Homo sapiens: one gene and its partner. The protein of the gene in region 2 purifies or fractionates together with the protein of the main gene of each other region. This does not show direct contact. Each region holds a gene or a part of one and is shown on either strand. Other genes may lie near its edges.

Evidence for each region. The genes of interacting proteins can lie anywhere in the genome.
Region 1: the proteins of ZNF778 (region 2) and SNX16 purify together in Homo sapiens (affinity purification with mass spectrometry; one large-scale study listed by BioGRID and IntAct). This does not show direct contact.

What each region holds. Positions count from the first base shown.
Region 1 is NC_000008.11:81,835,686-81,839,185, forward strand, and holds part of SNX16 (sorting nexin-16), read right to left. Parts: intron 1-3,500. UniProt on the Homo sapiens protein: May be involved in several stages of intracellular trafficking. Plays a role in protein transport from early to late endosomes. Plays a role in protein transport to the lysosome. Promotes degradation of EGFR after EGF signaling.
Region 2 is NC_000016.10:89,224,203-89,227,702, reverse strand, and holds part of ZNF778 (zinc finger protein 778), read right to left. Parts: intron 2,985-3,500; coding exon 2,901-2,984; intron 2,149-2,900; coding exon 2,072-2,148; intron 1,010-2,071; coding exon 1-1,009. UniProt on the Homo sapiens protein: May be involved in transcriptional regulation.

The sequences.
Region 1 (3,500 bases), on a different chromosome or scaffold from region 2:
CATTTCCCAACAAGTTCCTCATCTCCAACTAAGACTACCTCAGCCTGGACTGTAGAAAGAGGTTTATTTGACTTACAGTTCCACATGGCTGGGAGGCCTCACAATCATGATGGAAGGTGAAAGGCAAGTCTCACATGCTGGCAGACAAGAGAGGACAGCTTGTGCAGGGAGACTCCCGCTTTTAAAACCATCAGATCTTGTGAGACTTATTCACTATCACAAGAACAGTATGGGAAAGACCTGCCCCAATGATTGCCCCTTGTCCCTCATCTGAGACAAGGCAAGTCCCTTTTGCCTATCAGCTTGTAAAATCAAAAGCAAGTTAGCTATACTTCCTAATTACCTCCCACCAGGTCTCTCCCACAACACATGGGAATTAAATGAGATTTAGGTGGGGACACAGCCAAACCATATCAGTGAGCAAGAAATGAAACATTACCAATCAAAGAGGTCCATAGCATGCTTCCTTCCCAATTCTACTCACTACACATCCTAGTCAATTTTTGTCTTTAAACAACCTTTTTAAAGACTAGACACCTTATATATTATCAGATCAAGAGTGAGTCCTAATACTTTTTTCAGTTATGAGAGCAATTCAAAAGAATATATCTAGAAAAAATTATTTTACAAACCTAAGATTCTCAAGTTTGTATCTCCAGCTTATACCTCTCCCTTAAACTCAGCTTATATGTATACACACACATTACATATGTATGTGTACACATTAACACATGTAACATCTCCATTTCAATGTTGAACAGACATATCAAATCTAGCATGTCTAAAAACAAATTTTGATCATCCCTCAAAACCTGTCATTTAATTAAATGGCAGCCATATCTTCCCATTGTTTAGGCCAAAACTTTTGAAGTCACCTTTGACCTCTCTTTCTCCCACACTCCACTTCCAAATCATTAGGAAATATTGCCGGTTCTACTTTTAAAACAAATCCAGAACCTGATCACTTCTCAGGACTTCCTCCACCACCCCAGTCCACACTACCATCATGTTTCCCTTGGATTACTAAAAGAACCTACTAACTGCTTCCTGCTTTGACTGTCCCCCATCTCGACCAAACCAGTCTCAATTCAGTAGCCAGAATGAACTTTTTAAAACATTGTCAGATCACATGACTCTTCTTTTAAAAACCTTTTAAAAGATTCTCATCTCATGCAGAGTAAAATCCAAAGTCTTCACAGTGCCTCCTTCCCTATGTGATCTGTGTGCCACACTTCCCTGCCTGTCATCTCATTCCCTACACCTCCCACAGCTTACTCTGCTGTCAGCCACAAGGATCTTTGTAGTTGTCCCATCTGTGTTGAAAACACATTCTCATGGCTCATTCCCTGTTAGCACTAACATCTTTTTGTGAGGCCATGACTGATAGTGCTATTTAAATCCCAACCCCAGATTTGGGGAAACTCCCTGTCTTCCTTCTCTGTTTTATTTCTCTCTATAGTGCTTATCACCATGTGACATATCAGGCGTCTTATTATTTACTTACTTATCATGCTTTCATTCAAATTGCTGTACCACTATTACCCAGAACAGTGCCTGAGGCATAATAGGTAATTAAAAAAATGTTGAGTTAATAAATAAATGAATATGACTAATTTCATATCTGTCATTTACTTCCTCCTCTCCAGTCTCTTGAAATGCTTTACATAACACCACCTTGTATTTGGCCAAATACTTGCATCTTCACACATATCATCTGTCTTAGTCTGTTAGGTCTGTTATAACAAAATACCATAAATTTGGTAGCTTGTAAACAAAGAAATTTATTTCTCAAAGTTCTAAAGTCTGAGAAGTCCAAGATCAAGACAGTAACAGATTTGGTATCTGGAGAGGGCCTACTTTCTGGTTTATAGATGGTGCCTTATAGCTATGTCCTCAGATGTGTAAAGGACAAAAAGCTCTCTGGGGCCTCTTTTTAAGGGTCCTAATCCTATTTATGGGGGCTCTGCTCCCATGACCTACTGGCTTCCAAAAGCTCCATCTCTTAATACCATCACCTTGAAGGTTAGGTTTCAACATATGAATTTTGAAGGAACGCACATTCAGACCATAGTATCAACTCAATAAATGCCTATTTCTTAATTCAGGAAATTGGCCATCAGTTTATATTTTCTAAAAATTTTCTAAAAAGAGAGAGAGAGACAGAGTTCCCTGAAGATTTCCTATATCACAGTCTTATGATAATTTTAAAGACTGCCTCTTCATAAATTATCTCAACAATTTTTCCTTGGAGGTCCTCCCATCCTGTCATAAATTTACAGCATGAAACATTGAAGTAAACATTAAACTTTACTAAAAGAACAAAGTCTTACCAAAAAAGTAAACCTTTTGAGTTAATAAGAGAGTTGAGCAAGGTTGCTGGATATGTAAACATAAAAGGACAAATTATATAAAATAGCAGTAAATAGAAAACAAAAATAGATGTCTCTCACAAGAACATCAAACAACATCCATATCCTGAAATAAATCTAACCAACAGATGTAAGAACCCTGCACCAAAAACAACAAAACATTACTAGAAAAAAATGACTTAAGTAAATGGATTAGGTTCATAGATTTGAAAACTCAGTAAAGATGTCAGTTCTCCCCAGATTAATCTATAGATCTAACAAAATCTCAATGCAAAGGGTGAAGAATAGCCAAGGCCATCCTGAAGAAAAAAGCTAAAGTACATACACTGCTACATATCAAGACCTATTATAAGACTTTATTAATTAAGACAGTGTGAAATTAGTAAAGGATGAAAAAATAGAACACAGAAGCAGACCCATGCATTTATGGTCACATGATTTATGACACAGACAACACTGAAAATGAAGAGGAGAGAGAGTGGTCTTTCAAATAAAAGCCTGATTAATTGGTCCCATCTGGAAAAAAAAAAAAAAAAAGACTTGACCCTCACCTCACACCATGGACAAAAATCAATTCTGGTGGTTTACGAATCTAAATGTGAAAGGTCCAACAATAAAGATTTTAGAAGAAAACATAGGACAGTATCTTTGTAGCCTTGGAGTAGGCAAAGATTTCAAAAAGTGCTAGCCATTAAAAAAAGTAATAAATCAAGCCAAATTAAAATTAAGAACTTTTGTTTATCAAATGTATTATTAAGGAATTGAAAAGGCAAACCACAGAGTGAGAGGATAGTCATAATACATGTATCTGAAAAAAAAATTATATCCAAAGTGCACAGAAAACTACAAATCAAAAGGGAGACTTCCCAAAAGAAAAATGAACAAAAATCATGCACAGATATTTCACAAGAGAATATCCAAACAGCCCAAAAAAATTTTAAATTCAATTAGTCATTAAGAAAATTCAAATTAAAACCACAACCAATGTGATATTACTCTGTACCCATGAGAACAGCTGAAATGATAAAAATGTTAAAATATCACATGTTAGGAAGCTATGGATCAACTGGAACTCTTATATGCTGCTTTTAGGAGTATAAATCAGTACAACCATTCTGAAACACTGTTCAC
Region 2 (3,500 bases):
TGTGAGTCCTTACATGCTCAGTAAGGCCCGAGGATGTACAGAAGGCTTTCCCGCAGTCCTTACACGTGTATGGCTTCTCGCCCGTGTGTGTTCGTACGTGTCTAGTAAGGCCACAGCGCACAGTGAAGGCCTTCCCACAGTAGCTGCATGTATAGGGTTTTATTCCAGTGTGAATTCGAACATGATTATTAAGGCATGAGGAATTTCTAAAATATTTTCCGCAAACCACACATGCAAAGGGCTTCTCCCTCGTGTGAGTTTTTCCATGCTCATTCAGTAGATAAAACCCACCGCAGGCTTTCCCACAGTCCTTACATTCATAGGGCTTCTGTCCAGGGTCTGTTTGGACGTGTTTAGAAAGACCTGAGAGTCCAGTGAAGGCTTTTCCGCATTCTTTACATTCACAGGGTTTCTCTGCAGCATGAATTCTTACATGTTGAGTTAGGCTGGAAGAAACAGGGGAGGCTTTTCCACATTCTTCCAATTCACAGGGCTTTTCCCCAGGGTGGACTTGCACGCGACCAGTAAGGTAGGCAGTGTACCTAAAGGCCTTCCCACATTCCCTACATACGTGGGGATTCCTGACGGCATGCATTTCAACAGGTGTGGCGCAGCCCATGGAGTGAGTTAGAGCTTTCCCACACGGCTTCCATTTCCATGTTTCTTCTCCGTTGTGACTTCCCGCACGTGCCTGAAGGTATGACTGATTAAGGAACACTTCCCCACAGCTGCTGTAGTCAAGAGATCTGTCCCGAGTGCATGCTTGCTGGGAAACAACATTTGGAGTAGAGCTGAAGGCTTTTCCACACTGACCCAACACGGAAAACTGCTCTCCAATTTTGAACAAGGTTTTCTGGCATGGAATAAAAAAGTCCCTTTCATAATGATTAGACACACAACTGTCTCCTGTATTTTGAGTTCTCACGTGTGTGCTGAGGCCTGAGTGTTCACTGAAAGCTTCTCCACACTGCGTGCGGTCACAGAGCTGCCCTCCATTGTGGCTTCTTGCCTGTTGGTGAAGAATGAGTGGTGGTCAGGGGGTTACTGAGGCTGATTCATAGATCTCACCCAGCTGAAGACAGAGCATGACGATGATGATTACGATTTTTGCCATTTTCATAACATGCAAGCAGCTCCTGCCCTGTAGATGTCTTTCAAGTCAAATGAGGAGCCCCACTGCAAGAATCCTGTGCCATCAGGACGGGCGCAGCAGCTCATGCCTGTAATCCCAGAACTTTGGGAGGCCGAGGCGGGCAGATCACCTGAGGTCGGGAGTTCAAGACCAGCCTGACCAACATGGAGAAACCCCGTCTCTATTAAAAATACAAAATTAACTGGGCATGGTGGCGCATGCCTGTAATCCCAGCTACTCAGGAGGCTGAGGCAGAAGAATGGCTTGAACCAGGGAGGCAGAGGTTGCGGCGAGCTAAGATTGCGCCGTTGCATTCCAGCCTGGGCAACAAGAGCAAAACTCCATGTCAAAAAAAAGAATCGGCCAGGCACAGTGGCTCACGCCTGTAATCCCAGTACTTTGGGAGGCTGAGGTGGGAGGATCACAAAGTCAAGAGATCGAGACCATCCTGGCCAACATGGTGAAACCCCGTCTCTACTAAAAATACACAAATTAGCTGGGCATGGTGGCACATGCCTCTAGTTCCAGCTACTTGGGAGGCTGAGGCAGGACAATCACTTGAATCCAGGAGGCGGAGGTTGCAGTGAGCCAAGATCGTGCCACTGCGCTCCAGCCTGGTGATGGAGTGAGACTTCATCTCAAAAAAAAAAAAAAGAATCCTGCACCATCTGCTCTAACTTCGAAAAGTCTGTGCGCACAAAACAGCTCTGCGATCTCAAGACCTCGTCATGTGTGCGCTGATGTGTGTCTGAAGCACCAAGTTTCAAGACAGGATGAGGTCCTCCCAAATTCCGCACATTCAGAGTGTTCTCTACAGACAACCCCTGCCTGAGTGAATCCTGCTTCTCTAAATTCTCTCAATTTTGCTCATTTTCTATAGTGGAATTCCCAATCTTTTATGAGTGTGATAAATAAAAAAATCTCTCTTGTTAATCTTACCGTCTGTGTCTCATTTGATGCTCTGAACCAAGATCTATCCTGCCGAAGTGCTGGCCCTTTGGTTTTAAGTCGCCATTCTGAAAAGAAAGAAGAATGACCTAAAAACGATCAAACTCATTGGTATTTGTTTTCATATAAGACATGGCAGAAAAAAAAACAAAGCAAAGATAGATTTAAGGAGTTTGGCTATGTGTAAAATTTGGAATCATAGGAACTGGGAGTCATAATTTAGAAGATTTTAAAATACATTTGGTCCATAAAGAAGAAATGTGAGGTGAACAGAAACAATATTATCAATGAAAGAAAGCAGGAAAGAGCTGGACAAAGGGCATACATTCAAAACACAAACTTGGCCAGGCGTGGCAGCACGCACCTGTAATCCCAGCTACTCAGGAGGCTGAGGCAGAAGAACTGAGTGAACCCAGGAGGCAGAGTTTGCAGTGAGCCAAGATTGTGCCACTGCACTCCAGCCTGGGCAACAGAGCAAGACTCCGTCTCAAAAAAAAAAAAAAAAAAAAAACCCACAAACTGAAAGAACAAAACAGCAGGTTTTTTATGAGATCACAAGAAAGGGAAAATCCAGATCAGATGGAAAATAAGGAATTACGGGAAGCTCAGGATACCCAGAGCCAACAGCCTCATGTTCTGTGCCAGAATGCATCTTAAAACGTGCACTCAGGATTCTTCCACAGCCGCTAAACTCGACACTCAGGATCCTCCCACAGCCGCTTAACTTGACACAATCCTTCCATAGCCGCTAAACTTGACACTCAGGATCCTCCCACAGCTGCTAAACTTGACATCGACCAGGCGTGCTCTTCACACTTACCTTGGAGAACTGCTCTCCGCCCTGCCCTCAACTCCTCTTCCTGCTCCAGCCAATAGATCACACTGGGTTGGAACAGGTGATGTCCTGTACACAGGGAAAGAGACATCGATGGAAGAGGCTCAGGCAGGGGATGACAAACCTACCCGTGAACAGGAACTACATTTCCTTTTTTTTATTATTTTTTGAGACAGCGTCTCGCGCTGTTGCCCAGGCTGGAGTGCAGTGGTGCAATCTCGGCTCACTGCAACGTCTGCCTCCTGGGTTCAAGTGATTCTCTTGCCTCAGCCTCCTAAGTAGCTGGGACTATAGGTGCCCGCCACCACGCCTGGCTAGTTTTTTGTATTTTTAGTAGAGATGGGGTTTCACCGTGTTGGTCAGAATGGTCTCAATCTCCTGACCTTGTGATCCGCCCACCCCGGCCTCTCAAAAGTGCTAGGATTACAGGCATGAGCCACTGCGTCTGGCGTCCCAGAGTGCTCGGATTACAGGCGTGAGCCACTGCGCCCAGCCTCCCAAAGTGCTGGGATTACAGGCATGAGCCACTGCGTCCAGCATCCCAGAGTGCTGGGATTACAGGCGTGGCCACCACACCCTGCCTCC